Linked DNA regions of Homo sapiens. The protein of the gene in region 4 purifies or fractionates together with the protein of the main gene of each other region. This does not show direct contact. Each region holds a gene or a part of one and is shown on either strand. Other genes may lie near its edges.

Region 1 (7,021 bases), on a different chromosome or scaffold from region 4:
CTCATATAGAAGCTCATAGTCTTGAATTGTCTTCATTAGACAATAAAAACTTTTCTTCTGCTACAGAAGATGAAATTGACCAATGTGTGAAAGAAAAGAAGTTGAAACGGAAAATACTAGGACAATCATCGCCAGAGAAAAAAATAAGAATTGAGAATGGAATGGAAATGACAAATACTGTATCTCAAGAAAGGACCAGTGATTGTATTGGATCTGAGGGAATGAAAAACTTAAATTTTGAACAGCACTTTGAAAGAGAAAATGAAGGAATGCCATCATTGATAGCAGAGTCAAACCAATGCATCCAACAACTGACTAGTGAAAGATTTGATAGTCCAGCTGAAGAAACTGTAAATATTCCACTAAAAGAAGATGAGGATGCAATGCCTCTGATCGGGCCTGAAACCTTGGTTTGCCATGAAGTAGATTTGGATGATTTGGATGAAAAGGATAAGACCAGCATTGAGGATGTAGCAGTTGAAAGCTCTGAGTCTAACTCTCTTGTTTCTATTCCACCTGCCCTACCTCCTGTAGTCCAACATAACTTTTCAGTAGCTTCACCACTTACTCTTAGTCAAGATGAGTCTCGAAGCGTAAAAAGTGAGAGTGATATAACGATTGAAGTTGATAGTATTGCTGAAGAATCTCAAGAAGGTCTCTGTGAGAGGGAATCGGCAAATGGATTTGAAACTAATGTTGCCTCTGGTACCTGTAGTATAATTGTACAAGAGAGAGAGAGCAGAGAGAAGGGTAAGGACTTTCTAGGGAAAAGTAAGTGTTTATATGAAACCAAAAATCAAAACTGTTGAGTTTCAGGTACTGTTGATCTGTAAAGTACTTTCTTTTTCTTTTCTCTCTTCTTTTCTTATTAAAAAGAAAGAAATGTCAGTGTAGTCTGTTGAATAATATACTTGCTCTTTTTTTTTTTTTTTTTTTTTTCAACATTCTCTCTTTCCCCTTATTTCAGGTCAGAAGAGGCCAAGTGATGGAAATAGTGGATTAATGGCAAAAAAGCAAAAGCGTACCCCAAAGCGAACAAGTGCTGCAGCCAAAAATGAAAAGAATGGAACAGGTTGGTGTCTTTCAATGCTAGCTTTTGTATAGTGTTAGTATTTTTAGCAGTTTGTTGGCTTGTTTTAAACATAAATGGAGCAATACTATATTGTTTTATAACTGCATTTTCATTTAACAGTATTATACTAGATATTTTGCCATTTTTATTCTTAGGAACTCTAGCTCATTCTTTTTAACAACTTTAGGAAAGTATTCAATAGTTTATCATTTTTAACCATTTCCCCGTTGGTGAGCATTTAGGTTTTTTTGTTTTTTTGTTGTTTTTATATTGTTATAAACTTTGTGCATTTGTGCACTTATTTCTGTAGGATACCAAGAAATGTAATTGTTAGGTCTGTTGCATTTTGATATTTAAGAATTTTATTTATAATCTGAGTCAATCTTTTTTATTATTTATAGGACAAAGCAGTGATAGTGAAGATCTTCCTGTCCTAGACAATTCAAGTAAATGTACCCCAGTAAAGCATCTTAATGTATCTAAGCCACAGAAACTTGCACGATCTCCTGCAAGAATATCCCCGCACATCAAAGATGGAGAGAAAGATAAACACAGAGAAAAACATCCGAATTCATCCCCTAGGACATATAAATGGAGCTTTCAGCTCAGTAAGAAGCTTATAGAAAACTTGATAGATGAATACTGTAAAGTGGAATAGATCTTAAAATATCAACTTGGATTAATGTTAATAAAATAAGGAATAATGATTAACTATTTAGATATTCCAAATATTGCCTTAGCAAGAATCACCACATGTTGTCTTAAGTATAAATCTGTGTCTTTTCATAAAACTGACTTGATAAATATTGACTTACAGGAAGGTCTCCATTAAGAAGCCATGTATGATTTATATAAATCAGTGAAATTGAAGTGCCCTTTGTAGCACTAACAATTAGAAATAGCCAGTAGTTATTTCTATTATGTAACTAGTAGTAGTGAAGAAAATGTCAATACAGGGAAACTATTCTGATAACTATAATTATAGATAGGTCAGGGTTAGTTTGTGTTGATGTTTTCTTATGTTTTTCTGATCATTTAAGTAATAAATGTTTAGTATAGAAAATTTGGGATCTAAAAATAATTCTTAATCATGAATTTAATTCACGACTTCCTTGTTTTCAGTCTTATTCAGCTTACTGTAGGAGATTTTAATAAACTAAAGCTTTTGTTGATTTATGAGTTAGACGTTTGATAGAATTGTCATCATTTTTCTCACAGAATTATTTTAAAATCCAAATTAACTTCTTTCCCCCCTTTTAGATGAATTAGATAATATGAACAGTACAGAGAGAATCTCATTTCTCCAAGAAAAACTACAGGAAATCAGAAAATATTATATGTCTTTGAAGTCTGAAGTTGCAACCATAGACAGGAGGAGAAAAAGATTAAAAAAGAAAGACAGGGAAGGTAATTTTATTATGATTTTTCTCCCCTTATATTTCAAAACTATATCCTATCATTTTAGAAGATTTAAATTTGATACTCTTTGAATATAGTACACATTCATTAATTGCTGTTTTTAAATTCCTAGTGTTTTCTATTGTTGAAATGAGTAGGTCAGCAACTGAGTTAATCAGAATGACACCCTTAAAAGGGAGTATGAACTGTTTTCCAAAATGGGTGATTGTACTAAATGTGATGGATTCTCAGGTAGAGCATAGTCCTTCTGAAATTCACTCTTTGCTCAAACATTTATTGGCATCTATTAACAGGCACTGTATTTGTTATGGGGTTCACCAAAATGAATGAGACATAAGGCTTATTCTCAAGGAGATTATCTTGTTGGGATTATAAATCATTTCCTAAGCAACTAAAATATAAGATAGTGCAGCTCAGCAACTTTAAAGAGCACATGCCATGTGCCAGGCACTCTGCCAGGTGGCGGAAGTACAGAAATGAGTTAGATACAGACTTTCTTCTCAAAGATCTTAACATCTAGTGGAACAGTGTGTACCCTGAGAATGATATTAACGAGTACAAGAGTTAGTGGAAGGAGAGGTTACTTTGGAGTAGTCAGAGAGAGGGAGTAGTGTCTGAGCTAGCCCTTCGGGGGTTGTAGGATTGACTTCCAGTTAAACATGAACATGTCCATCTACAGTCCATCCCTAAGCCCTGCTAAAATAACAGTAAAGGAAATTAAAAGCCCTAAACTCAAAAGGACAAGAGAATGACCACAACAGACAAGAAATGTCAACAGTATATCTTTTGGAAGCTGCATAACAGATGGACTACTGTAACTGTCCCAGCAGATGAGATAATGCTGAAACTAAGCTTGCTTGTCCTTGTAGTGGGACAAAACAACAAGAAGCAAGCCAATTAATACCATGTAACCCCAGAAAAGCTTTCAGAAGGGATATGGGACGATGCTGAAAAATGGGATTGGTTGAAAATGGAAAGAGAAATTGGATCTCTTCTTCCCATCTGTGAAGCAAGTCTACCTCACCCCCAACTCAAGCAGAAAATAGATTAACTTAAAAGAGAATGAGGAAATCAGTAGGCCTGTAGACTTGGGGGCACCAGCCACAGCTGAGGGTAATGATTAAGTGCTAAACCAAAATAATGGATGGAGTGAAAGTTTGCATACTGAATAGTTAGATTGCTGTCCCTCTTCTAACTCAAGGCCTAATCCTCTTGGCTTCCTGAAAGCTGGCAGCCAAGCTTATGCTTATTCCTGGGAGGAGATTGGAAGATTCTTCTAAAGAAAATGACCAGCCCAAGAAAAATTACCTACTATTTGGATGTTCCTGAAACAAAAATCAAGATCCTTGCCAATCACTACATGTGCATTTTCTGTATTTAAAAGCCCTGATGCTCATATACAGCTTTCAGTCAGCTTTTTAATGTTAAATATGGAAGCCACATGACCAGACATTTGAGGAAAGCCCCTACATAAAGGCAGAAGCCAAAGTAGAAAAAGGAGAATAAAAAGGAACTGGAAGAAAAAAAACAGATAATGTACCATATTAAAAAAAAAATAGGACAAAACTATTCTTAATAGTTAATCCAAGTTGAGTATCCTTTATTTGAAATGCTTGGGTCTAGAAGTGTTTGGGTTTTTTATTTTTTTCAGATTTTGGAATATTTGTACATAATGAAATATCTTGGTGATGGGACCCAAGTCTAAACACAAAATTCATTTATGTTTCATAGACACTTTATACACATAGCCTGAAGGTAATTTTATATAAATAATTTTGTGCATGAAACAAAGTTTGTGGTAAGTGCTTATGTGTGGAATTTTCCACTTGTGGCACCACGTTGGTGCTCAAAAGTTTCAGATTTTGGATTTTTGGATTAGGGATGTTCAATTTGTATCCAGAGATAAAGGGAAAGAGATTGCCACCTTGAAACAAAAGCATAATAACTATTTTAAAAATTCAGAGAACAAGAAGGATATCTTTAAAATATGATAGCAGGAATTTAAAAAAAATAATAAGGCAGTGAAGCTGAAGAAATTCCACTAGAGGGTCAAAAAGACAATAGGAGAGAAGAAATAAGAGAAATATGGAATCTGGCGAGGAGATCCAACTTCTGAATCATAGGATTTCTAGAAGGAGAGTTGAATAAACAAGAGGAAGTTGTCATCAAAGATATTTTTAAAATTCTAGAACTGAAGGATATGAGTTAGAAAAGGACTCACTGTGCCCTCTATAAATAATGGGGGTGAAAATCACCAAAGCATATGAAATTTCAGAATCCTGTGGATAAAGAGTAGATTCTAGGCCTGGCACAGCGGCTCACGCCTGTAATCCCAGCATTTTGGGAGGCAGAGGCAGGCAGATCACTGGAGGCCAGGAGTTTAAGACCAACCTGGCCAACATGACAAAACCCTGTCTCTACTAAAACTACAAAAGTCAGCTGCGCATGGTGGCAGATGCCTGTAATCCCAGCCACTCAGGAGGCTGAGGCTTGAGGATCACTTGAACCCGGAAGTGAGCACCGAGATCGCGCCAGTGCACTCCAGCCTGGGTGACAGAGTGAGAGTCTGTCTCAAAAAAAAAAAAAAAAAAGTAGATTCTAAAAATTTACCATATAAAGATACATATATAAAAAGAAATGGATCTCAGAACAGCATCAAGAGTCTTACATCCGATTTCTCAATGGTAGTACTAGAAACTAGAAGCCAAGCTAAGAAGACATGGGACTGGCAAACAAGGAATCCTACATAGGAAAATAGTGAAGGAATATCTGAAGGTGATGGTGAATGGAAGCTCTAGGATGACCACTGCATAGCAGACCTAGAAAGCAACTATTCCAGGAGTAGGATGGAACAGGAGGGGAAAGCTCCAGAAGGGATGTCTCTTAAAAACCAAATAAAAGGTAAATTACCTGATAGGGTTGATCATGTTGAGAGAAGTTTTCTGCCTCTAGTAGAGATTTAGTGGATGACTTTGTGGTAGAGTGACGTGTCATGTGTGGCCTTGACCATTGTGCTCCAAGTCCAGCAGTTTTTAATTCCTAGAAATAGGAACAGGATGGAGCAAATGGAAAGAGATCAGACTTCTCATGTTCATCCTTTTCTTTTAAAAACTGTAAATAGCAAGAAGTCTTTACAGAACTTTTGAATATCAAAAGAAGAAAAGAACAAATTAGCAAATTAAAATTTCTTCAAAGAACCCACCACTTGCTCTGGGGTCAGTTTCCTAAAGGTGACATACATTTCAGACAATTAAAAAGATTTTCTTTTTGTTGAGACAGAGTTTCACTCTTGTTGCCCAGGCTGGAGTGCAATGGCACAGTCTTGGCTCACTGCAGCCTCCGCCTCCCGGGTTCAAGCCATTTTCCTGCCTCAGCCTCCCGGGTAGCTGGGATTACAGGTGCCCGCCACCATGCCTGGCTAATTTTTGTATTTTTAGTAGAGATAGGGTTTCACCATGTTGACCAGGCTGGTCTCCAACTCCTGATCCCAAGTAATCTGCCCACCTCGTCCTCCCAAAGTGCTGGAATTACAGGCATGAGCCACAGCGCCCAGCCAAAAAGATTTTTTTATTACCGTCTTTTTTGTTGTTGGGGGGTACAGGCTCTGGCACCCAGACTGGAGTGCAGTGGCATGATCACGGCTTACTGCAGCCTCAGACTCTTGGGCTCAAGCGACTCCCACCTCAGCCTCCCGAGTAGCTGGTACCACAGTGCCTGCCACCACACCCAGCTAATTTTTTAGTTTTTTTTGTAGAGGCATATTCTCACTATGTGGCTCAGGCTGGTCTGGAACCCCTGTTCTAAAGCAATCCTTTTGCTTTGGCCTCCCAAAGTGCTGAGATTATAGGCATGAGCCAACATGCCCAGCTTATTATAGTCTTTTCCCCATTTTTATTTGCTTATGTTTTTATAATGAGTTATTAAATTGAGATTTGAGTGATTTGTAGCATACATGTAAGAATTTGTTGCCTGGGCATGGGGCTCACGCTTATAATTCCAGCACTTTGGGAGGCTGGAGCAGGAAGATCACTTGAGTCCAGGTGTTTGAGACCAGCCTGGGCAACGTAGTGAAATCCCATCTCTACAAAAAATTTAAAAATTAGCTGGGTACAGTGGCATGTCTTAGCTACTTGGAAGGCTGAGGCAGGAGGGTCGCTTGAGCCCCAGAGGTTGTCATGATACTTGAATAAACAAAAATTAAAATTTTAAATAAAATAGGAACAATCAGGCAAAGAAAGGCAGAAGACAAGAGTATTGCAAGGAAAGAGAAGATAAAAGCAAAGAACTTAAAAAGTGGCAAAACACCTAATGCTCAGAGTACCGATCCCTAATCTGTGTTATGTCCTCCTGGAGAAAATTATGTTAAAACCATTTGAGGACTTTTTGCTTATCACACATCATTACTTTGATCCTGATCTCCATGATTCTGATACCTGTCAGAGGAAATCCTCTGAGTTAAATTAATTCTCTTACGGTCCTATGACCCATAGATAAAGCAGAAATTCCATATGGTTCCATGTTTATCTCAGG
Region 2 (7,021 bases), on a different chromosome or scaffold from region 4:
CTAGGAATAAAATTAGAATAAGGACACAGTTTTACCTCTGGAAAATGCTTACTAAAATCTGTTTCAAAAGACCAGACATGTACAGCAAGCACAATACTGTCAGTTATTGTTCACCACTTATATACTGCATCATAAATACCAGGTATAAATACCTGCCGCTAAAGGGTCACTAGAAATACAGGTAGAAGCATGTTATCACTTTACACTAATTTTACTCATTAGGTATAATTTGTAAAAATAGGTCACCACCCCACCATACAATCAAGAAAGAGGAAAAGAAAAGTTGCTATTCTACAAAAGTGCTCCTTTTAGCTTTCAACCCCAATAGCTTAATTTTGGGTAAAACAAGATTGTAAGGTATGGCCATCAGTTCTAAATAAGCTGATGATGCCATATATACATCCTCATATATATATATGTTTAAATTTCAGTTCTGGTTTAACACTAATGTACTAGTACAAACCATTTATAGGAAACATTCTATCGGCCTTATTTACAAACACACAATGAATGACAAAGATATGGAAAATTTTAAAAATTGCAGATAAATGTAGTCATAGTTTACTAAAGATAAGACAAATTTGCATAACTTTTTTTAAAACCAAAGAAAAATGTTTAGAAAGAAACCCCTACCATATACAGAATACCTATTGGTCATCGGACCTAAGAGGCAAATCAACGTAAGGATCGTGATAAAATTTTTATTACTGTTTCTTTTAATAACATATCAATGAGATCTATTTAGAGTACTACCTACAAATACACATTCTCTCATGATTCAGTGAGAATATTAAGTTATTGAATACATTTTTTTACTCTCATGGCACTTACATTTGGTAACACTAATAAGGTAAATTTAGATAACACTTAAATCATGATTATGAATGTTTAATTGAATATTTTCCTTTCTGTAGCTGTGAAATGTAAAGCTTAGATTTGCTTCCATCAGGCCTCTTAAACCAAACTTCATCATGGTTAATTGTTGTAATTACAGCACTAAAAAGAAAAAAAAAAGAATGAATGAATGAATTACAATGTCTCCTCAATTCACTTTAGATTATTACCTATATAAAACCAAAATAAACTGGCCTACAACAGTAGACTCAGGTATATAATTGTCATTTACCAGAATGCTGCATATCAGCAGTACATGCTGCCAAAAATATCACATTCAGCAACACAGCAGATCATCCTTCTTTTCTTAATAGAGTTCGTAAAATTTACTTTCTATTAGAACTATTAAAAGCACATTCTTCCTACTCCATCCCCACCCCACCTCTTTAAAAAAAAAAAAAAAAACTGGAGCTAAAAGCGCTATGTATATGGTATTATACTTGTAACTCATGTCAGTATCTTTCAAATGCTAATCTCTAATTCCTAATGTCAAACCATCTACGGTACTTATACCAATTTTTTTTACACTACTAATCTTTACATAAAAAGATCTATTCTTTAAATAGATTTGTATTTTATTCTTTTTTTAATTATTTATTTTTTGTTTATTTATTTTGAGACAGAGTCTCACTCTGTCGCCGAGGCTGGAATGCAGTGGCGCAATCTCAGTTCACTGCAATCTCCACCTCCCCGGTTCAAGTGATTCTCCTGCCTCAGTCTCCCAAGTAGCTGAGACTACAAGCACGTGCCACCATGCCTGGCTAATTTTTGTATTTTTACTAGAGACGGGGTTTCACAATATTGGCCAGGCTGGTCTTGAACTCCCGACCTTGTGATCCACCCTCCTCGACTTCCCAAAGTGTTGGGATTACAGGTGTGAGCCACTGCACCCGGCCTAATTATTTATTTTTTAAAGAGTGAATAGGAATTTTTTTTTTTTGAGACTGGGTTTCTCTGTCACCCAGGTTAAAATGCAGGGCCACAATCAGGGCTCAACCTCTCAGGCTCAAGTGATCTTCTCATCTCAACCTGAGTAGTTGGGACTAAGGATAATTTTTTTACTTTGTAGAGATGGGGTTCTCTACAAAGAGACCAGCTAGGGCTGGTCTCAAACTCCTTGGCTCAAGTGATTCTCCTGCCTTGGCCTTCCCAAGTACTGGAATTACTACAGGAAAGATCTATTGTACCTGGCCTCATCTCTTTTTAAACAACTTTTATGCTAAGTAGTAGTAAAATATCTCAAAAACAATAACATAAACAGAAGAATCCAGGAGTATCATATATAAACTAGTAGTTCAATGAGCTTCTATAAGAAAAGTTATTATACACAATGTTCCTGGAATCCTAAAAATTTAAAGACAAAATTATCTTACAATTAAAACCACTGTATTTGGAAAATGCATACTGTAGACTAAACTCAAGTTGTTTTATTTACCACTGACACCTACAAAACCATATTTTGTTACCACAGAAGTTTACTACTCTGAGAATTAAATCCTACACTACTGGAGAATGAAAGATGATTAACAATATTTTCAAAAGGTCACAACCAGATAAAACTTAGAAGGCTATACAAATAGTTATATAAACTTTATTTAAGCCTAGACATATTACTAGGACTTTTAAAAGGCAGTTTTCAAGTTACACTGTGTTGTTGTTGTTGTTTGTTGTTGTTGTTGTTAGAGAGACAAGGTCTCACTCTGTTGCCCAGCCTGGAGTACAATGGTGTGGTGAAATGATACCTTGCTGCAGCCTCAAACTCTTGGGCTCAAGCGATCCTCCTGCCCAAGCAGCTAGGACTATAAGCACACACCTCCACACCTGGCTAATTTTTTTATTTTTTGTAGAGACAGGGTCTTGCCAAGTTGTCCAAGCTAGTCTTGAACTCCTGGCCTCACCCAATCCTGCCTCAGCTTCCCAAAGTGCTGGAATTACAGATGTCAGCCACTGCACCCAGCCCTAGATTATACTTTAATTACTATTAATCTTAAGGGTTTTATTAATTTTCCATTTATTTCCTACTCTAATTGATACAAATTCTTTTTATCTAAAATATTGTAACACATCCAAAAAAGTTAAAGATTATTAGGTCCACCAAAAATTCATAATAGTCAGGTTTAAGGGTCATTATAGCACGATCCTAACGATTCACCTACTAAAAGAATTAAGAAACAGGATCAGCTACCTGGCTAAATAATTTCAACATTTCTACTTGCATTAAAGTTTGTGTTCATAAACTTAATATGAAGTCTGGTTCATACATATTAACACTGCTGTACACACATGTAATCAAGCCATATGTCAAGTGAAAAAAGGATCCACAAGCAACTAATGATATAGGCACACTATGGAGGCAGGAAATATTTCACTGACAACGATGTTGTAAATGACAATACTGAGCAACACTGAAATAACAAAGGCTTTTTTACCTTGTAGGACATTCATCTTTTTTATCAATACATATTGTTTGTCCACGTATATACCATTCACCATCATAATATAGTCTTCCCTCTTCAGATCTAGCACTGTGCAGATGTTTTTCCAGTTTCACAGGTGCTAAAGGGATCAGTTCAAAAACTGTTATATTAATAAAACACTGTCAGAAGAACAAAGGGTCAGAACATTAACAATTAACATCAATCCATGCATATGTAAAAAAGGCCTAAAAATATTTCTTAAATAACAAACCTAAAATGTAATAAAAAGATTTATTCCTTACATTCTTTTACATAATCACTAAGTTTTTAATATAACTACTAAACAAAGCTAAACAATGAACAATAAATCATCAATTGACTAATTAAGTACCAGAAGGGGAAGCAGGTATGTTATCAATTACTAGTGTGAATTTTAAGTAGTATTTAAAATATCAATTGCCATATTTCAATTGAAAATTATACTTTTTATTTTTTCCCCTGCGGGCATCTGATATACCGAAAGAAGCAGAGTTTAATACATGTTCCAAGCATTCCCCAGGCTTTTAATTCTAAAAAGGAAATGTCCTAAGTACAACTTCTATTTTTAAATTCCAGAAATCATCTGGCATTAGTCAGATAACTCATACAGGAAAAAAAAATCTTTTTTATGGAAACACAGTGTCAAAAGCATACCATGAAGTCATTCAAATGTCAGCTCCTGAGAGGTCTTCCCTAACTACTCTACCCACTCCTCAGCTAATTGTTATATCAACTGCACAGTTCTTTTAGAGTAATTATTATAATCTGTAACTATCTTCTTAACTGTTTATCTACATATATATGATTCCACCTCCCCTAAAGAGGCTCCAGGAGATCCATATTTCTTTTACCATTGTATTCTCAGGGCCTAAAATACCATCGGGTATATTCATTCATTCATTCATTCATTCATTCAACAAATGTTGTCTGAACACTTCCTATACACAAGGAAGTATGCTGGGGAAAAAACTGTGACCAAAAGAGATATGGTTCTAGCCTTTGTGGAGCTTACAATCCAGTCAGGAGATAGACAAAATTAAAAAGTACAAATTGAGTGAAGTGCTATGAGTAAAACTAATAGGATACAATGCTGAAGATAAGAGTGGGAGGGAGACACACTCAACTATGATAATGAGATTCTCAAAAGGAATCTATTACCCAAAAATGTTAAGAACCACTGCTCTACAGGTCTAGGCAGCTGCTCTGGCAGTTAATTCCCCAGGGCAAATACTGCTGCAATTTCCTCACAAAATAAAAAGTTTAAAGGAATCATGGGGTTAAAAATAAAATGCAATTTTTTTTTTCTTAGAGATGGAATCCTGCTCTGTTGCCCAGTGTAGTGGTGTGATCATGGCTCACTGGAGCCTCGACCTCCAGGGCTCAGGTGATCCTCCCACCTCAGCCTCCCAAGAGGCTGAGACTACAAGTACACACCGCCAAGCCTGGCTAATTTTTGTATTTTTTTGTAGAGATGGGGTCTTGCCATCTTGCCCAGGCAGATCTCAAACTCCTGGGCTCAAGTGATCCTCCTGCCTTAGCGTCCCAAATTGCTGGGATCATGCTAGGCATGAGCCACCATGCCCAGCCTAAACAGAAATTGGTCTCTTATCGATTACTTAAGCTGTTTAAATGTGACTAGAAATTCCTTTCCTAAGTATTTCAAATATGTTTTTCTTTTTAGTCTAGCTTCATTGTCCTTAGAAGGATTAGGAAATCTCACCTATAGTGAAAGAAGGCAGAAACAGAGAAACTTATCCTAAACACCATCACATTTTGGCAGTGATTTTAGACTTCCAAAAAAAAAATCAAGGAAGTGTAACTTGATATGAATTTTACTAAGGCATATCAGCATTCTGATCTCTCTCCTCAGAAAATGCACATGCAGAATTTTGCACATAATTTCAGAGGATTCACAGAATCTCTGAAGCCAATCCACAAATTCCAAATACCTCCCCTATAGAATGACAGAGCCCATAAAAAACACTGCATAAATACTTTTTTGAGTTACTGATCCATTATTAGCAATAAGAATGTAGCTGAACACTGAAATAATTATACCACATTCAGAAATTTTGAAACTTTTACGTGAAGCAATGACTCCAGAAGAATTCCTCATAATTTCAGGCACGGTGTTCACTGATGAAATAAAACCACTGATTCAAGAGTTCTTTAGTACGTAGATAACAACCCTGATTCAACAAGTCTCCAAAGAGAATATTTCCCAACTCAGACTAAATGACTTACGTTCCGTTTTCACTCTGTGTGGCCCCAATGTAGCCATTGCCTTAATTAAAAAAAAAAAAAAAGAGGAAGAAAGAAGTCTGAGTTCAGACTGAAAATATATTTTGGTATCTATTTAATATATACAATATTACCGATTAACTCCATAACAAAGACAGTAAAGTATAACCATTAGCTGCTCTAACAAATTTTTAATGTCTAAGACCATAAAGAATATGAGGGATAACAATTTCTCCTAGAGGTGTTTTCAATACCTGAAATAATCTCTAATTCTCAACTAAGAAATTTACAAAAATGAAAAAATGTAATATGGAAAACAAGCCTCCACTTTCAGGCAAGAAAAGAAAAGCCTATGATTCTTGAATGTTTAATGATAGGATGCAAGACACATAAGGGTTCAAATGTTCTTTTGTTCAACAAATATTTATCAAGTGTTTTCTATAAGCCAGGACCAGCCAAAGGACTAGGCACAGATGGTGATGTTATTATTTTTGGGCAGACTAAATAAATGTTTTTTGGACTTTTCCATAAATTATTAGTTACATTATTATAGAAAAAATACAATCAAACTGCTGACATGTCTCTAACTCTTAAAATATCCTTGTAGTTCACTGCTATCTGTAATAGTATTAAATTGCCTTAGAAAAATGTTGCAAAAGCAAAGCATATTTACAATAATATTTTGATGTACTAACAAAAAAAACATAGAATCTTAAAAAGTAGACTATAAAAACATACTTGTGTTCCACTGCTCATTAATCATACCTTCCTAATTGTTGTCCAGTCTTCAAGAATATCAAGATCTTGTAGCATATAAACTATATATGGACGTTGAATAGTCAAGGTCAATTTAGCTGTAAGAATATCACACTTTGAATTATATTTCCAAAGTACTACATTTCAGAAAATGGAACGATGATTTATGAGCATAATGCTTTGGCATCCTAAATTCTGACTTCAAATTATTCTTCAAACCACTTAGTACCAGCATAAATACAGTCTAGTACTTCTGATGTCATAACTACATGCCCTTAATTCCATGATATCATTGATTGTAATATACATCACTAACACAATCACTGGTTTTTAAGGTGGAGGGGAAAAGATGGGGGTAGAGGGATGGTACCATAGAGAATGCCGAAACTGAATATACGTATTAATTTACACTCCAATTTTGGAAACATTTAAAAATGTTTTTAAAAAGTATACGAGGCTAGGCACAGTGGCTCATGCCTGCAATCCTAGCACTTTGGGAGGCCAATGCAGGCTTAAGCCCAGGAGTTCAAGACCAGCCTGGGCAACACGGCAAAACCCCATCTCTACAAAAAATACAAAAATTAGCCAGGCGAGTGGCACGTGCCTGTAGTCCCAGCTACTTGGGAGGCTAAGGTGGGAGGATCACCTGAGCCCGAGAGGTTGAGGCTAAGGTG
Region 3 (7,998 bases), on a different chromosome or scaffold from region 4:
CACGCGGGACCATCCTAGAGTCTCCTGCCACACCTGGCATAGGTGCTGCTGGGGTGGGGACAGTGGTATAGAATGTGATACCAGGAAGAGAGAGATTCTTGAGTTTGCCCAGGGTAATAAACAGATGGAAGTTGTAAAAACGATGGATACAGGCAAGCTCAAAAGCAACACATCCTTTATGTGTATGGCTCATTTAATCTACACAACAAGCTGGAGATAAATAAGGTTATGCTCATGTTACACAAGTGACCTGGAAGAAACTAGGCTTTCCTTGACTGGGAGGTTGAGTCAAGGGGAGTATTTGGACAGAGGGCAACTGCAGAGAGTCAGTATCGTTAGACTGCTCACGCAGTGACTAAGTGAGAACCGTCTGGGTCCGATGGTAAAGAGGCCCACCAAAGTGTAATTACCTGGCTGACTGGGCATACTGCCTATGAGTTAGCCCTGCTCCACAAGGAGCAGTACTATTCAATAAAAAGTTGCAGGCTACTACCACCAGTTTGCCCTGGAATTCTTAAAAAAAAATTTCTTTAAGAGAAAAAAATGCAACAAAGTGTTGGATCACCCAGTGGGTTCTTCCTGTCCACTGTACAGACAAAATCAATCCACTGAGACCGTGGCATTGCAGCAGAGAAAGTGTTTAATTGACAGGAGGTGGGCAACAGGGAAGAATTAGAGTTATCACTCAAACCAGTCTCCCTGAAGGCTCAGAGCTTAGGGTTTTTATGAACAATTTGGTAAGCAGGGGGATAGGGAATGAGTGCTACTGATTGGTTGGGGATGAAACCATAGGGGTGTGGAAGACATTCCTCGTGTGCTGAGTCTGCCTCTAGGTAGGGCCACAGGACCAGTAGAGCCATGAGTCACGAGTTCAGATCGGATCAGTATGAAAGATATCTCAAAAAAAAATCTTTACAACAGTGATGTTATCTATAGGAGCAACTGGGGAAGTCATAAATCTGAGACCTCTGGCCACATGACTCCTGAGCAGTAAAGGATTATAGAAACTGACTACTTTTTAGCAGAGTTCAGGCCCCTCTCATAATCCTATTCTTGTGGTCTTTCGTTGGTTTACAAAGGTGGTTTTGGTCCCCAAGCAAGGAGGGGGTTAGTTTTAGAAAGGGACTATTATCATCCTTGCTTTCAAGTTAAACTATAAATTGTGAAACATAGCTGAGTCTATACCCAGGAATAACCAAAGACAGCGTGGAGGTCAGAAGTAGGATGGAGTCAACTATGTTAGATATCTCTCACTGTCACGATTTTGCAAAAGTGGTTTCAATCACATCACCAAGTCTCAGGGACCATTCGCTGACATCTGACTGACTTCCACAGAACACTCACGTGGAGAATCTGCTTTTCTCTAGAAAATCACCGAGCAGATATGATGCCTATTGTATATCTGCTTAATCTATTCAAAAGATCATGGGTGGACAACACTTTTTTTTAATTTTTTTATTTTTTGAGACTTGCTTTGTCGCCCAGGCTGCAGTGTAGTGGTGCAACCTTGGTTCACTGCAACCTCCACCTCCCAAGTTCAAATGATTCTCCTGCCTCAACCTCCCATGTAGCTGGGATTAATTTTTGTACTTTTTGTACTTTTAGTAGAGATGGAGTTTCACCATGTTGGCTAGGCTGGTCTCGAACTCCTGACCTCAAGTGATCTGTCCGCCTTAGCCTCCCAAAGTGCTGGGATTACAGGTGTGAGCCACCGCGCCTGGCCAATTTTCAAGAACCTCAAATACTAGTAAGCTCCTGAAACTGGCATAGGGCTTGAATACTTGAGGAGTGTAGAAGGTTCAGTCTGGCTGGGGCACAAGGTGTGTTTTCTGCACACCAAGTTCAGTTGATGGGAATTCTAAACCCTAGTGATAAAAGATGGGTGAAGCACCTGTTTTCCTTTAAGTGTCCACTATGTGCAGGACCAGAGACATGGATGAATAAAGCCATAGCTACTGTCCCAAGTAACTCAGGAAAACTCCAATTTCAATCATATAGTAACGCCGATGTGTTTGTGATTATATTTAGCAAACATTTATTGAATGCTTCCTGGATCTAAAACCCTGTTGACAGGAGATATAAAGACAAATAATTTCTCTGTTTGCCTACTCCAGGAGGAATATGGGCAGACACAGATCAGTGCTGTAAGAGAGGTACTGAGGAAGTTCTATGGAAATATTCTAGAGGGTGGGGAAAAGAGAGGAATTGGAGGAAGGCTTCTTGCCGAAGAGAAACAGTTTTATTTCCGGTTAGGCATTATAGAATTGGCAGAACTCTTCTAGATGATTGCTGAGCATCCTAGCCTATTAGAAGGCACTTCAGGCCAGAGCAAAATGCTGGAAGCCAAACTGCGCAGATAACTAGTAGAAACTGTTGTTGGCAGAGTATCCAGTGTCTGGAGAGGCAGGAGAGACTAAATTATTAAGGCCTTTGGATAATGGGCATAGGGATTTGGAATATATTCCGAAGATATGGAAACATCGTGGATGGGAAGGATAGATCCAGATTAGTGATTTAGAAAAAGAATTCTGGAGGACATAGTGGGTGTAGGAAGAGATTTCAGTGGGGGCAGCAGCATTGCTGCAATTCAGATAAGAAATAATGGCAGCTTGAGCCACAGCTATGGAAACAATAGAAAAGGAGGCAGAGGTGCATATCAATGTAATATGGCGGCTGTGGGAGATGGAAGAGTGTGGAACATATATGAAGCTGAAGACAGAAAGGATGGTGATGCCAGTAAGTAAACCCAGGTATCAAGGGGAGTACACAGGGGAGGCAAACCAATAAAGGTGTTCAATACATTAACTTTGAGGGGCTTGTTAAGACTTCTGTGTGGATTGGCCCATCAGGCGGAAATATAGGTATACAACTCGGAGAGGTCACCTATGCATAGGTAACATTTTCAAAGATATTTGAGGCTGGGTGTAGTGGCTCATGCCTATAATGCCAGCACATTGGGAGGCTGAGGTGGGCAGATCGCTTAAGCCCAGGAGTTCAAGACCAGCCTGGGCATATGGTGGAACCCTGTCTCTATTCAAAAAAAAAAAAATATATATATACACACACACACACACACACACACACACACGTATATATACATATATATACATATATACATATATATACATACAACTCCATCTCAAAAATATATATTATATATATAAAATATATGTATTCATATATAAATATATATTTTTGAGACAGAGTTTCGCTCTTGTTGCCCAGGCTGGAGTGCAATGGCTTGATCTGGGCTCACAGCAACTTCTGCCTCCCGGGTTCAAGCAATTTTCCTGCCTTAGCCTCCTGAGTAGCTGGGATTACAGGAATTTGCCACCATTCCCGGCTAATTTTGTATCTTTAGTAGAGATGGGGTCTTTCCCATGTTGGTCAGGCTGGTCTCGAACTCCTGACCTCAGGTGATTCGCCTGCCTCGGCCTCCCAAAGTGCTGGGATTACAGGCATGAGCCACGTGCCTGGCATATATATATGTTTAGTGGGGTGTGGTGGCATGCGCCTGCAGTCCTGGCTACTCAGGAGGCTGAGGCAATAAGTTAGTTGAGACAAGGAAGTCGAGGCTGCAATGAGCTGTGATCACGCCACTGGACTTCAGCTTGGGCTGAACTGAGAACCTGTCTCAAAAAAACAAAAAACAAAAAGGATGACATTTGAAACTGTGGAAATACATTAAACCATTTAGGAAGGCAGTATAGCATTAGCGTGTTGGAGCCCTGAAGAATGCTGTATTTATGAGAAAGAGGAGGTATAATGGAGCTTGACATAGGAGTAGAAGCAGGAGACAGCCTGGTTCTAGAGGCCAAGGGAAGACATGAGGAGGAATTACTACTGGTCAGTAAGCTAAACAAGATGAGATCTAAGTGAGGACCGATGGGTTTGAAGTTGAGTAGGTGTTGGCAACTTTTGGGGAGCAGTCTGAGAAGAGTGGCAACTCCAAAAGGGATAAGGACTGCCTAGGCAGAGAGGAGGCTGAAGTCTATCACAGGAGTCACTCTTTAGAAGTTTGAGAATGAAGGCATGAAGGTGGAAAAGGAAAGTGGCTTGAAGAGGAGGAGTATCTGAGACTCATCCCTGGGCTATAGCCAGGAGCTACTCTCTTCTAACCAAGCAGTTGTCTTACACAGCTGTGCATGATAGGAAGAGGGGGGTTTGAGCCCCATTTATTTCCTAACTAATCACAAAACTCCAGGCCTAAATTACCATCTGGTAAGGGAAGAGGGAGACTTAATCTCTTATCAGACACAAATGTGGCCTCAAAAGATATGGCTAAGTCTTCTACAGGTGCATAAACTCCAACCCTGAACCCCAAGCAAAATGACAAAATAAAACTGCCCCCTTCAGCTCCTTTATAATCCGGAAAGCGCGCGCAGGTGCGCCCCGGCCGCCCAGAGCCCTGCGCCCTGCCGGCCTGCTTTCACAGAGCCGCGCCCGCGCTGCGCCTGGCGGCTCCCGCCGCGCGTAGGCTGTGCCGACCGCGGTTCCCGGTGGGGACACCGAGTCCCACTCGCGGCATAGGGAGGCGGGCACCGTCACGACACTGGCCCGGCCCGCGGATCCCTTGGCCGCCGCAGTTGGCCTCCATTACCCTTTCCCGCGCCGCGCCTCCCCGCGGGGAAAATGAAACCCAGTGCCCTCAGGTTAAGGCATAGGGTGGGATCCACTGTCTTCTCACTTAGCCAAGAGAAAAGGCAGAACCGACTTCAGACAGCAAAGGGGTGTGTTGCCCTGGCCGGGTCGCCTGCGGCCCCGCCCCGGCGCTCTCCACCTCCTTCGCGGCCCGCCCTCCTGACTCCGGCGACTACATTTCCCACAGGACGCCGCGGCTCAGAGGGGCGGGCCCGTCCGCTCTCCCGCTCACGACCACCGGCGACTGGCTGACTCGGCAGGGGGCGGGGCCTGCGCCAGCCAATAGACGGGAGGCTCGTTACGGCGGCGGAAGCAGCGGCGCTGGAGTGAGGGGTGGGGGGCAGAGTGCTAGCTCCCCGGCGGTGGCTGCGGGTCCGGAGCCTGGGGACGTCGGCCCCACAGACGGAGAGCGCGCGGGAGCGAGCTCAAGGCGGCGCGGCGGCCACTGGGCGCAGCACCCAGGTAATGGCGGGACGGGCGCCCGGGAGGGAAGGGGAGGAGACGAGGGGGCGGGGCGGCTGAGCCGGGCTGCAGCGTCCGTCCCGTTGCGCGTCCCCGGGGAAGGGCAGAGGATCCTCGTCTCCTGCGGCTCGGACCGCGGCTCTTTCGCGAGCTGGTCACGGCGGTTGGGCCGGCGACAGGGGCTGGGTGTCCTGTGGCGAGGAAGGGAGAGGCACCGGGAGGGGTGGGCTGACCCGGGCGTGGGGGCGTGGCGGACGTGGGCCTTGGCGGGGAAGCAGAGCGGCCGGGGGAGCGCGGGCGGGCGGGCGGGCGGGCGGCCGGCCCAGGGAGTTTGGCTCCTGGAGCAGTTTAAAGTGACTCTCCACATCCGGGCCCTGCGCCCGCCGCTTTCAGACCCTGGCTGAGGCGGGGCCTCCCCGCTCCCCGCCCCCTTCGCCGGGGGCGCCTGTCTTCCTCTGCCATTGGCTCAGCCTCGAGGGGTTTGGGCTGCCCCGGCCAGGCTCGCGCCTGATTGGCTGGCAGTCGGCGGGAGGGTGGGGCGGGCTCTGAACGTGCAGGTCGCTGTGGATTGGTCCTGGGCCTCCACTGACGCGTCGGGCGTGGGGCCAATGGGCGGGCGGGGGAGGCAGGGGCAGGTTCGGGGGAAGAGGACTGCGAGCACAGCGGCGGCCGGGTGGCGGGGGTGAGTGGGGCCAGCGGGGCTGGACAGCAGCGGGCCCCGGGCGCCGCCGCCGCGATCCCTCCCCGCGCCCGCCGAGCACATCGCCGCCGCCGAGATGGGCCCTCCGCGGCACCCCCAGGCCGGCGAGATAGAAGCGGGCGGTGCGGGCGGCGGGCGGCGGCTACAGGTAAAGAGGCACAGTGCTCGTCTTGTGGTCGGGTCCCCAGATCGCCCGTCCGCACCCCCACCCCGGAGACGGGGGTCTCACACTCCGAGGTGTCTGGAAACCGGCGTCCTCCGGTCTCAGCGGGGGCTTCGCGGTGGGGTGGGGTTGCGGGCGAATCGGGAGATCGCTTGGCTCCTGAGGGAAAAGTGGGGGGCGATTTTAGGGAAGATGGAGAAGGTGTAGGGTCCTCTGGCTCTGTGAGGGGATCTGTGGAAGAGAAGGAAAAGGAAATCCGTAAATGGAGGCCTTTGCCGAAAAGCATTGGAGAATTCCTTTTGCATCGGGTCTGGATGTAAGATATCGGATCTTTTCTTAGGGCTGGATATCTTCCTCCGAATGTTCCTATGACATACTAATCACAGTTCTGTTCACCTTGGTGTGAGATTTGAGTGTTTCAAAGAGACATGCCATTTTCCATAAAACTTTACACAGAGAAATACACATGCATTGTGGTAATACCTGTCATGTGACTCTTGTACAGGATTCAATGGTGATTTTTTTAGCATAGCAATCCACAAGTATTTATGGAGGGTCATAGTACCCGCCAGCTCCGTATAAACAATATTTGTAGAAAACTTAGGTAGTTTAGATAATGTCTGCATTTATATTGATCCCAAGTTATTGTTTTTAAATAAATGATGCAGCATTTGCTTTTCCAAGGGACTATCTCATAGGTACTAAAGATGCTTTAATTTCTCAGTATTGATTCAGATCTCAGAATCTAGTAATAACCATATAACTGTATGTACTACAGGTGGAAATGAGTTCTCAACAGTTTCCTCGGTTAGGAGCCCCTTCTACCGGGCTGAGCCAGGCCCCTTCTCAGATTGCAAACAGTGGTTCTGCTGGATTGATAAACCCAGCTGCTACAGGTGAGATATGTAATATTCTAATATATTTTTTCCTACTTTAAGAATATTACCAGTTTTCTAACTTAAAAATTAGCAGATTCTTCTAGGATTTTAGTAAATTCTTGTTTCTTGAATTTGAAGAAAGGGTATATTACTATTCTAATTTAAACAAGGCTTTTTTTCCTTCCTGTTTTAACCACTTCATTCACATAGAGTACACATGCAACTTATAGCAAAGCGTGCCTGTAAGAACTGTTTTTGAAATGCATTAATATATTCTTGTTTAATTAATGTCCAGGAGTATAGCATTAGTGCTGTGAGGGAGCCCAGAGGTGTTTAAGGAACAGATCTTGTCTTTTAGGGGTTTATTATCTAGGAAAAGAAGTGGAAAACAAAGGATATGCGGTTTCCCTATGGTGTCTGTGGGGGATTGTTTCCAGGACCCACCTTAGATACCAAAATCCATGATGCTCCACTTTCTGATGTAAAATGGTATAGTGTTTGCATATTACCTATACCTATCCTCCAGTATATTTTAAATCATCTCTAGATTACTTGTAATACCTCCTACAATGTAAATGGTATGTAAATAGTTGTTATACTGTATTGCTAAGGGAATAATGACAAGAGAAAAAAGTCTGTATGTGCTTAGTACAGATGCAAGCAGGGTTTTTTTCCCCCCCTGAATATTTAACATCCAAAGTTGGTTGAATTCACATCAGGGAACCCATGGATACAGAGGGCTGATTGTATACACATAGATAAAACTTGGTTTTTAGTCTTATACCCTTTGAGTGGTAGAAATTAGTGGTTCTCAGTGACAGGTGTTTGGGGAGGTGATTTTTCCTCCAGGGGAGTACTTGGCAATATCTAAAGACAGTTTGGTTGTCACAACTAAAGAGTACTATTGGCATCTGATAGGTAGAGGCCAGGGATACTGCTTAACATCCTGCAAGGTAATGGGAAGCCCCCCACAACAGAGAAGTATCCAGTCCAGTCAGCAGTGCTGAAGTTGAGGAATTCCTTCAAATACTCTTTTTCTCTATGTATTAAGTAAATATATGACATTGCAAAGTGAAATAAATGCTTTTCTATTCCTTTTTCTTCACCACTGGATTCTGGTGTTCCTTATGGTAAATGATACCACTGTCTACTCA
Region 4 (7,905 bases):
GTCTGACCTCGCAGTGTAAGCACTTTCTATAAACTATATGAAAGGCACTTGAAATTAAGTATCAAAGTTTAGTTTGAAGGTTGTTATTTATCTAAGAAATTATGAGTGGGAACACTAGAATAAAAATAAAGGTTCTCTAATAACCCTATCCCATAATAAGTACTTCAATTGTGAAATTGTTTTCTTCTTTATTTCTCATTTTATAAGTTTTTCAGCAGTTCTGAAAGTGTCTCAAGTAGGTTAGAAAGAAATTTGACTGCCTATATAATTTATATCACTAAATATTGCTAGAAATATTAGATCCAAAACCAGAAAATACTTAAGCACTAGTGAAGATATAAAAAACATGAAATCTGAACCCAAAATATACATAAACATAAAACTGTGAAAGTTGAGCTCAGTAACCACGTGCAGAGTGAAAACTAGATGAGTTTTTAATCACTAATCACAAACTTCATAGAGCTAAGAATTTGTATAATCTCTCAATCTTGTAAGGCCTACTATATTACTAATGTTACCAGAGCTATTAATACCTGACAATTATAGATGATCCGAAAGATTTCCCTGTCAACAAATTATAGTATCCCTCACCAACTTCAAATAGCTTAACTCTTGTGAAAGGAAACATGTGCCTTCAAAGAAATGTAAAAACCTGCAAGCTTGCTGGGCGCGGTGGCTCACGCCTGTAATCCCAGCACTTTCGGAGGCCGAGGCGGGCGGGTCCCCTGAGGTCAGGAGTTCAAGACCATCCTGGCCAACATGGTGAAACTCCGTCTCTACTAAAAATACAAAACTTAGCCCGGCGTGATGGCAGTTGCCTGTAATCCCAGCTACTCGGGAGGCTGAGGCAGGAGAATCGCTTGAACCCGGGAGGCAGAGGTTGCAGGGAGCTAAGATCGAGCCACTGCACTCCAGCCTAGGGGACAGAGCAAGGCTCTGTCTAAAACAACAACACAAACTACAAGCTTTACAAACTTTGGTGTTATCTGAAAAACTAGAAAGGTTCCATATACAATTATTAAGCACGTATCATTTTTAGGTTACCATTCATGTTTGTGCTCCATATCTGTAGAAATCCCCTTGGACAGTTTTTATTAAAACTTAAATTGTTTGAAAACAAAGATATGCATCTACAGTAGCAGGCTCTGGAGCCAAATATTCTACATCGAATTAACTGGACGAGTTACTTGAACTCTTTGTAATCTGTAAAAGAAATATTTATATAATGGTCTGGACCCAGCGCATCAGTTTTAATTCCCTCCCCACCCCCTCCCCAAACACGGATCAGTCCTATGAATCCTATGGATTCAGAAAACAGAAACAAATTTATAAACTAAAAAACATCAGACACTTATGTCACCCAAGAAGTGGATTCCTTAGAGACTTTTAAAGTATAGGATTACTGGCGTGTCTACAAAAACAGAGAATGGGTCCAGGAAATTATCTTTAAAGTTCGTATGGCTGTTTCCATACTATGTTCAAGGTCTGTTCCTCGATTCAAGGTTATTAAGCGCAACACATTTCCCCTTTTAAACTGCCCTCCTAGTAGCACCACCGATAGTAGGTGGTAACACTGTAAGGAAGGTCGATTCTGTCCCGGGTTCCCGGGTCGGCCGGCAAAGGGTGGTTTCGCCTCCACACTTAAAGTCGGAGAAGGAGGGGCTCGGGGACGCCAGGCGGTTGCCCAGTCAACCAACCCACTTCCTCCTGAAGCCCGGAAGTGACACATGTCCCGGAACCTACGCGGAGCCAGGATCCGCGACGGTCCGAGCTGCTGATCGCCGTCCTGATCCATTGACTGGGAAAGAGGTTGGAAACATCACCGCAAAACATGCTGCAAACCCCGATTCGGACTCCGCTGGGGCCGAACCAACGCCCCCGCACAGCCCCGACTCCCTCCCCAGCAGCCAGCTCGCCACCGCCCCTCTCGCGACCAGCCATTTTCCAGGCCCGCGGGAACGCGCGCCGCGCCCCTCCCACGCCCCTCGTCAAGCCCGCAGGCCCCGCCCCCGGCGCGGGGGCCCTCCCCGCCACACACGCCCCTCTCTTCCTCTCCCGCGGGGGACCCCTCCCCTCTTAACCATTTTGCCGAAAGAACTGGGCTAGGGCTACAACGCGGGGCGCCCGCGAACTTTCCCGGGGCGAGAGAGCGGAACGGACTGCTCTCCTCCGGGCCGGGGCAGGAGCGCGGAGGAAGGCCCCCTCAGTCCGCCTCCGCGGCCTCTCGCCCCCTCCCCCCGCACGTTCCAAAGCACCCGCACTCCGGGGTGGGGGCGAGTGAGGTGGGGAAGCGCGCCCCGCAGACCAGCGGGAGCCCGGCCGCTCACTCCCTCCGACCCTTGCCCGGCTGCAGTCCCGGGCCGGGGCCGCAGGGTCTGCGGCACGGGGCGGGCCAGCGCCTGAACAAATGCTTGCTGCTTAAAATGGCTGATTCCCCTCAGCGGCAGCTGCAGCCGCTGGGTCTGCAGCGGGGGCTGACAAGCGGCCCCCACCCCCACTCTGGGGACCCCAGAGAAGTACTCGCCCACCGCGGGGCCACGGAGGGCCGCCAACCCGGTCTCCAGTCCTCCCAGTCCCGCTCGGCAGACCCTCGGTGCGCTCGGGGAGACTGTCACGGGAGAAAGGGAAGGTGGCACTCCCCCGGACAGGCTCCCCGCCACCGGCTCCCGAGGCCGGCAGCCCCGCGGCTCCTACCTTGATATTTGTTGTCCAGCTCTCGCAGCACAGACACGTTCCTCTGCATGTCGTGGGGCAGCGACTCCACGCACTCAAGGTAGTCCTGCACGTAGCAGGTGAGCAGCCGGCTCCGCTCCCCGGTCAGGAGCGCGGCCGACGAGTACAGTTGCTGCTGCTGCTGCCCTAACATCCTGCCGATCCGCGCCGTCGCCGCCGCCTCCGCATCCAGCAGCCGCACATGCACCGGCCGCGGCCGCCGCGGGCCCTCAGCTCAGCAGCCCGGCGCCGCGGGGACCCCGCAGCCGCTCGAGAGGGCACGGCCGCGCTCCCCGATCTCCACTCCCCCCAGAGCAGCCCTCACTCCCCGCCCCCGCAGCACCAGCCCAGGGGCGGGGCGAAACCGGGGCTCCCTCCTTTCTCCCCTCCCGCTCCAGGACCGGAGCAGTGGGGATCCCCTCGGCGGGGCCGGCGCCGGGGTCCCGGGCGCTGACACTTCCTGTCCCCCTCGGAGTCCCCAGATGCTACGAGTGCCGTCTCGCAGCCCGGATCCCCATGACAAGCCCGTCGCCGCCCGCCTGTCCCCAGTCACCCTCCGTGCCTCACGGAGAGCCTCCCGCTAGCCTGCCCCCGCCCCTCCGCCCGCGGCCGCCTCTGCGCCTGCGCAGCGCTCCCTGCGAATAAGGCCGGGGCCCGCCCCTACCGCCTACCGGAGGGTTCGCATTCTCCCGCCTTCGCTCCGCCGCCCGGGCGATTGGTCTGCCGGCTCTGGGCTAGCGGGGGAGGGTGTGGGGGGCGGCCAAACGGCAGGCCGCGCCCCGCCCCCCTTAAAGGGGAAGCCCGGGGAGCCAGTCTCTGCGCCTCGCGTCTGAATGGGACCCGGGAGGGGAGGCGGCTCGGTCCTTCGTGCCGTCCTCCCCGCTGGGAGGGGCAGCTCCAGCTCCGCTCGGCTCGCTCCGCCCGGCCACACCGGCTTTTTCCCCATCAGGCGGTCCGAGTGCGGCTCCTCGCGAGCCTGCAAAGGAGCAGCAGGCGGTTCCTTTTCGGACGACCTGGAGCGAGGCCTGCGGGACTGCGCGCCCCGGCGGGCGGCGTGCGGCTCCCGGCATGCGCGGCGGCTGCGTTCCCGCCGCCTCCGAGCTCGCCTGGGGCTGCCGCCCGCCTCCTGCCGGGCCCTCGGGCTCGCCCGGCACCGCGGGGCTTGATCAGGGAGGTAGGCGGTGCTCCCTCCGGCCCCCGGCGTCGTGTGCCCTGCGGGTTTCGTGGCCCTTCCCCTACGCTGGAATCTTCTGTGTCATTTAGGGGGAGGGGATGCGGGACGGCATCTGTTTGACAACGCATTGGTCCCACAGACAGCCTTTAAAAACAACTGCTTTTGGGGGGTGTCAGAACATTTAAGCACAGGACGTCGGTGAGGCTTCCTGGCGGAGTGGGGCACACGCCAGCTTTACGGGACTTTTTGCTCAGTCCTGCCCCAGGACTGCAATCGGAGGGGACCTGGGGCATGGAGGAGACGCGAGTGAAAACCTAGTCAGCGGGCGGGCCCTCGGCCCCATAATCTACGTGATCTCCTAGTGGGGTTTAATTTCGGTGTAGTGTAAATGAGATGTCAGGCAGAGGAGCTGATTTTAATTACAGATGGACATTTTTGAAAGAAATGGGTGCAAATAGAATGAATGCATGGATAATTTTAATGGAATGCCTATGTAAACAAGGCCAATTGTGAGTACTACCTTTGAGTTAAAATGTGAGTGAGTGGTGACAAATTTGGATCTTCTTAGATCCAGTTTGCAGCGTTGGTACACCTGAATGGTGACCTATTTAGAGCACTTTTGAAACAGCTGTTAATAGTAACTAGCCTTTGACTTGCAAAGAGAAATCTAGATCTTTATCTAGAGGAAATTTTAAATTTCAAACCAAAATAAAGCACTCCAGGCAATTTGACATCTTGGGACGTCAACTATTTCAAAGGACTGGGAAATTGTCTTGGGTTATTATCCTAGGACACTGAGGTTTGGGCCAGTATTAAGCAACCCAGACAGTACAGTGGATAGTATTTCTGAGAACATTCTGGGATTTTACTGTTCGTGAAATCTTTCGGCCGGGTCTTGTCAAAAAACCGCCACTGTGAAGAACTGAATTTTACTGGTTTTTACTTGAACCCTGCTATTTTTGTTTTCTCACAAGTTTGAATAAGCTGGTCTTTATCAAAGGCGCAAAATAATGTGGGGTGCCTTGTTACAGGTCAGACACCGAATGTACCTATGGATTTTATTCAGTCTGATAAGTGATCTGCAAGTAGATAAGAAATGTGTTTAGAAACTAGAAGGGGAAAAAGGCAAAGATGCAGAATACCTAGAGTACTCCAGAAACAGAGCAAGATGAGAGGAGGGATGAGCATGGGATAGGAGACATTTATAGCATTATTGTCACCTTTTATAATTCTGTTGAACAGGCTGGTAAAAAAGCAAAAACAATCCAAAGAATATTTTAGCTGGTACTGATCTAAAACTGTAAAACACTGTAATATGATAATATATGTATATGTATGAATTATTTTAGGCATGCTTTTCTTGCTATATTTATTTTAAGAGATTAATCTACGGCTTATTCTTGCCACCCCCAAAAAAAATCGCCACAAACCCTAAACCCAACTCTTGACCTTGGTTATTGAGCGCTGTCCTTCCCTTCTGAGTGGTCACTTAACTGGAAATATGGGGCCTCTTCAGATTGAATTTCTTGTCTTCTAAATGCAAAATTTAAAATCTCCCGTTCTCAGCAACTAGAAATTAATTTATGGTATTTAATCCTGTGAATAAAGCAAAAAGGCATTTTATTTGCTCTACAGTGTATTATCTACCATAAAGCAACCCTAAAAAAAAGATAAGTAACTGATCTCCCCAAATTAGTCTGGGATTACCTTGAATTTCTAAGTCTGACTTTAAGAGGTCCCTGGCAGGAAATGTGTACGCCTCCGTACCTGTCTCTTGGGGAGAGCAACAACTTCAAACTGGTTGAAAACAAACTGGCAAGTAATGGTGAAAGATTCCTAAAGATGCCTGCTGAGAAAATTCAGCTTCTGTTTGAGTCAGATCAAATAAATGAAATCCTTTTCTTTTTTCTACTTTTTAATATTTTTAAACTTTTATGGAAATTTTCAAAGGCAAAAGTAATACTACAATAAATCCTTATATACCGTCTACCCAGCTTCAACATTTAGCAACATATGGCTAAGATTATTTAATCTATAGCCCTTCACATTCCCTCACTCTTGCTGGATTTTTATCATTTTATCTGTAAATACTTTAAATATGAATAATATGAATAGGTAAAATATAATAGTTGTTTTTTGTTTGTTTGTTTTTGAGACTGAGACTTGCTTTTGTCGCCCAGGCTGGAGTGCAATGGGGCGATCTTGGCTCTTTGCAACCTCCGCCTCCCAGGTTCAAGCGATTCTCCTGCTTCAGCCTCCCAAGTAGCTGAGATTACAGGTATGTGTCACCATGCCCAGCTAATTTTTGTATTTTTAGTAGAGAGGGGGTTTCACCATGTTGGTTAAAGCTGGTGTGGAACTCCTGACCTCCAGAGATCCGCCCGCCTTGGCCTGCCAAAGTGCTGGGATTACAGACGTGAGCCACCATGCCTGGCCAAGATAACAGTTTTTTAAGCATATCCGTAATACCATGTATTCTGCCTCCCCAAATTTTCTTACTATCATTTAATAACTACACAATTCAAATTTTCCTATTGTCTCAGTAAATCTTTCACATTTGGTTTAACAGGATCCAGCAAATCCCATGCATTTTATTTGGTTACTGAGGTCTTTTCCAAACCAGTAAGAGGCAGTTAATTCCCTGTTTAATTCAGTGAAGCAGAGAGCAATGTTTTTCTGAGGAAGATATTTAAGTAGTTTAAAATCACTGCTTTAAATATGGAGAAATTCAAGAAGAAATCCTCATATGAAAAGTCACCAATTGATAGCGTGTTGTAAGAAATGTAATTGTACCTGATGCAAATAAATAAATCCTTAGTAATCTAGGAGGCTGTGTTAGAGTGTAATTTGTTCTAGAAGGTCCAGTGAAGCATCTTAAATTATAGTGAAAAACCCTAAAACTTTAAATCAATTCATTAGTACAAAAAGCAACTAAAGAAAAACCTAATAGTCCTGTAATCCCAGCACTTTGGGAGGCCGAGGCGGGCGGATCACGAGGTCAGGAGATCAAGACCATCCTGGCTAACACGGTGAAACCCCGTCTCTACTAAAAATGCAAAAAATCAGCTGGGCGTAGTGGCGGGCACCTGTAGTCCCAGCTACTGGGGAGGCTGAGGCAGGAGAATGGCATGAACCCGGGAGGCGGAGGTTGCAGTGAGCGGAGATCATGCCACTGCACTCCAGCCTGGGCGACAAAGCGAGACTCCGTCTCAAAGAAAAAAAAAAAACAAAACCTAATGGTGTGCGTCTCCACTGAACTCAGTTTTAAAGCATTAAAGCATTTTTTATTACTTTATTACATAAGTAATACACATTATTGTAGAAAAAATTTAAATAGAAATAAAAAGATATATAAAAGTCACTACAAACTGGAGATAACTCTTCTCAATATCTAAATATACTCCAAGATGTAATTCCATTTTAGCAGTTCTTTTGCTTTAAGAAAACACTTTGGCTAGGATTGAAGTACAAAGTTAGGCCAGGTGTGGTGGCTCATGCCTGTAATCCCAGCACTTTGCCACGAGGTGGGCAGATCACCTGAGGCCAGGAGTTCGAGACCAGCCTGACCAATATGATGAAACCCCATCTCTACTAAAAATACAAAAATTAGCCGGGCGTGGTGGCATGTGCCTGTAATCCCAGATACTCAGAGGCTGAGACAGGAGAATCGCTTGAACCCGGAAGGCAGAGATTGCAGTGAGCCAAGATGGTGCCATTGCACTCTCCAGCCTGGGCAGCAAGAGCAAAACTCTGTCTCATTTAAAAAAAAAAAAAAAAAAAAAAAAGGACAAAGTTAAGAAAATATCAGATTCTGTAGAAGGAATATTAGAAATCTGAGCAATATCACCCTGTACTTGGAGTTTATGTGTTAGACTGCACAGATTTAACTGGTGTATACAGTCAATCCTACTGCTTTAGATTATAGTACTATTCAGCATTTAGGATGACTACTAAAAGCAAAATATGATCCTAAAACGTTTTAACGAAGGGACCGTGTGAATGACTGGGATTGTAGTGAA

The links.
Region 1: the proteins of ING2 (region 4) and ARID4A purify together in Homo sapiens (affinity purification with mass spectrometry; 3 studies listed by BioGRID and IntAct, with this or other methods). This does not show direct contact.
Region 2: the proteins of ING2 (region 4) and BRMS1L purify together in Homo sapiens (affinity purification with mass spectrometry; 3 studies listed by BioGRID and IntAct, with this or other methods). This does not show direct contact.
Region 3: the proteins of ING2 (region 4) and SAP130 purify together in Homo sapiens (affinity purification with mass spectrometry; 3 studies listed by BioGRID and IntAct, with this or other methods). This does not show direct contact.

The regions. Positions count from the first base shown.
Region 1 is NC_000014.9:58,364,551-58,371,571, forward strand, and holds part of ARID4A (AT-rich interactive domain-containing protein 4A), read left to right. Parts: coding exon 1-750; intron 751-967; coding exon 968-1,072; intron 1,073-1,473; coding exon 1,474-1,680; intron 1,681-2,332; coding exon 2,333-2,479; intron 2,480-5,472; exon of another isoform or gene 5,473-5,530; intron 5,531-7,021.
Region 2 is NC_000014.9:35,864,335-35,871,355, reverse strand, and holds part of BRMS1L (breast cancer metastasis-suppressor 1-like protein), read right to left. Parts: intron 6,422-7,021; coding exon 6,357-6,421; intron 5,635-6,356; coding exon 5,595-5,634; intron 3,472-5,594; coding exon of another isoform or gene 3,451-3,471; coding exon 3,324-3,450; intron 997-3,323; coding exon 879-996; 3' UTR 1-878. UniProt on the Homo sapiens protein: Involved in the histone deacetylase (HDAC1)-dependent transcriptional repression activity. When overexpressed in lung cancer cell line that lacks p53/TP53 expression, inhibits cell growth.
Region 3 is NC_000002.12:128,025,045-128,033,042, reverse strand, and holds the start of SAP130 (histone deacetylase complex subunit SAP130), read left to right. Parts: upstream 1-4,983; 5' UTR 4,984-5,103; intron 5,104-5,736; exon of another isoform or gene 5,737-5,879; coding exon of another isoform or gene 5,880-5,951; intron 5,952-6,744; coding exon of another isoform or gene 6,745-6,750; coding exon 6,751-6,862; intron 6,863-7,998. UniProt on the Homo sapiens protein: Acts as a transcriptional repressor. May function in the assembly and/or enzymatic activity of the mSin3A corepressor complex or in mediating interactions between the complex and other regulatory complexes.
Region 4 is NC_000004.12:183,500,157-183,508,061, reverse strand, and holds the start of ING2 (inhibitor of growth protein 2), read right to left. Parts: upstream 3,005-7,905; 5' UTR 2,867-3,004; coding exon 2,695-2,866; intron 1,965-2,694; exon of another isoform or gene 1,796-1,964; coding exon of another isoform or gene 1,744-1,795; intron 1,212-1,743; exon of another isoform or gene 1,052-1,211; coding exon of another isoform or gene 1,045-1,051; intron 1-1,044. UniProt on the Homo sapiens protein: Seems to be involved in p53/TP53 activation and p53/TP53-dependent apoptotic pathways, probably by enhancing acetylation of p53/TP53. Component of a mSin3A-like corepressor complex, which is probably involved in deacetylation of nucleosomal histones.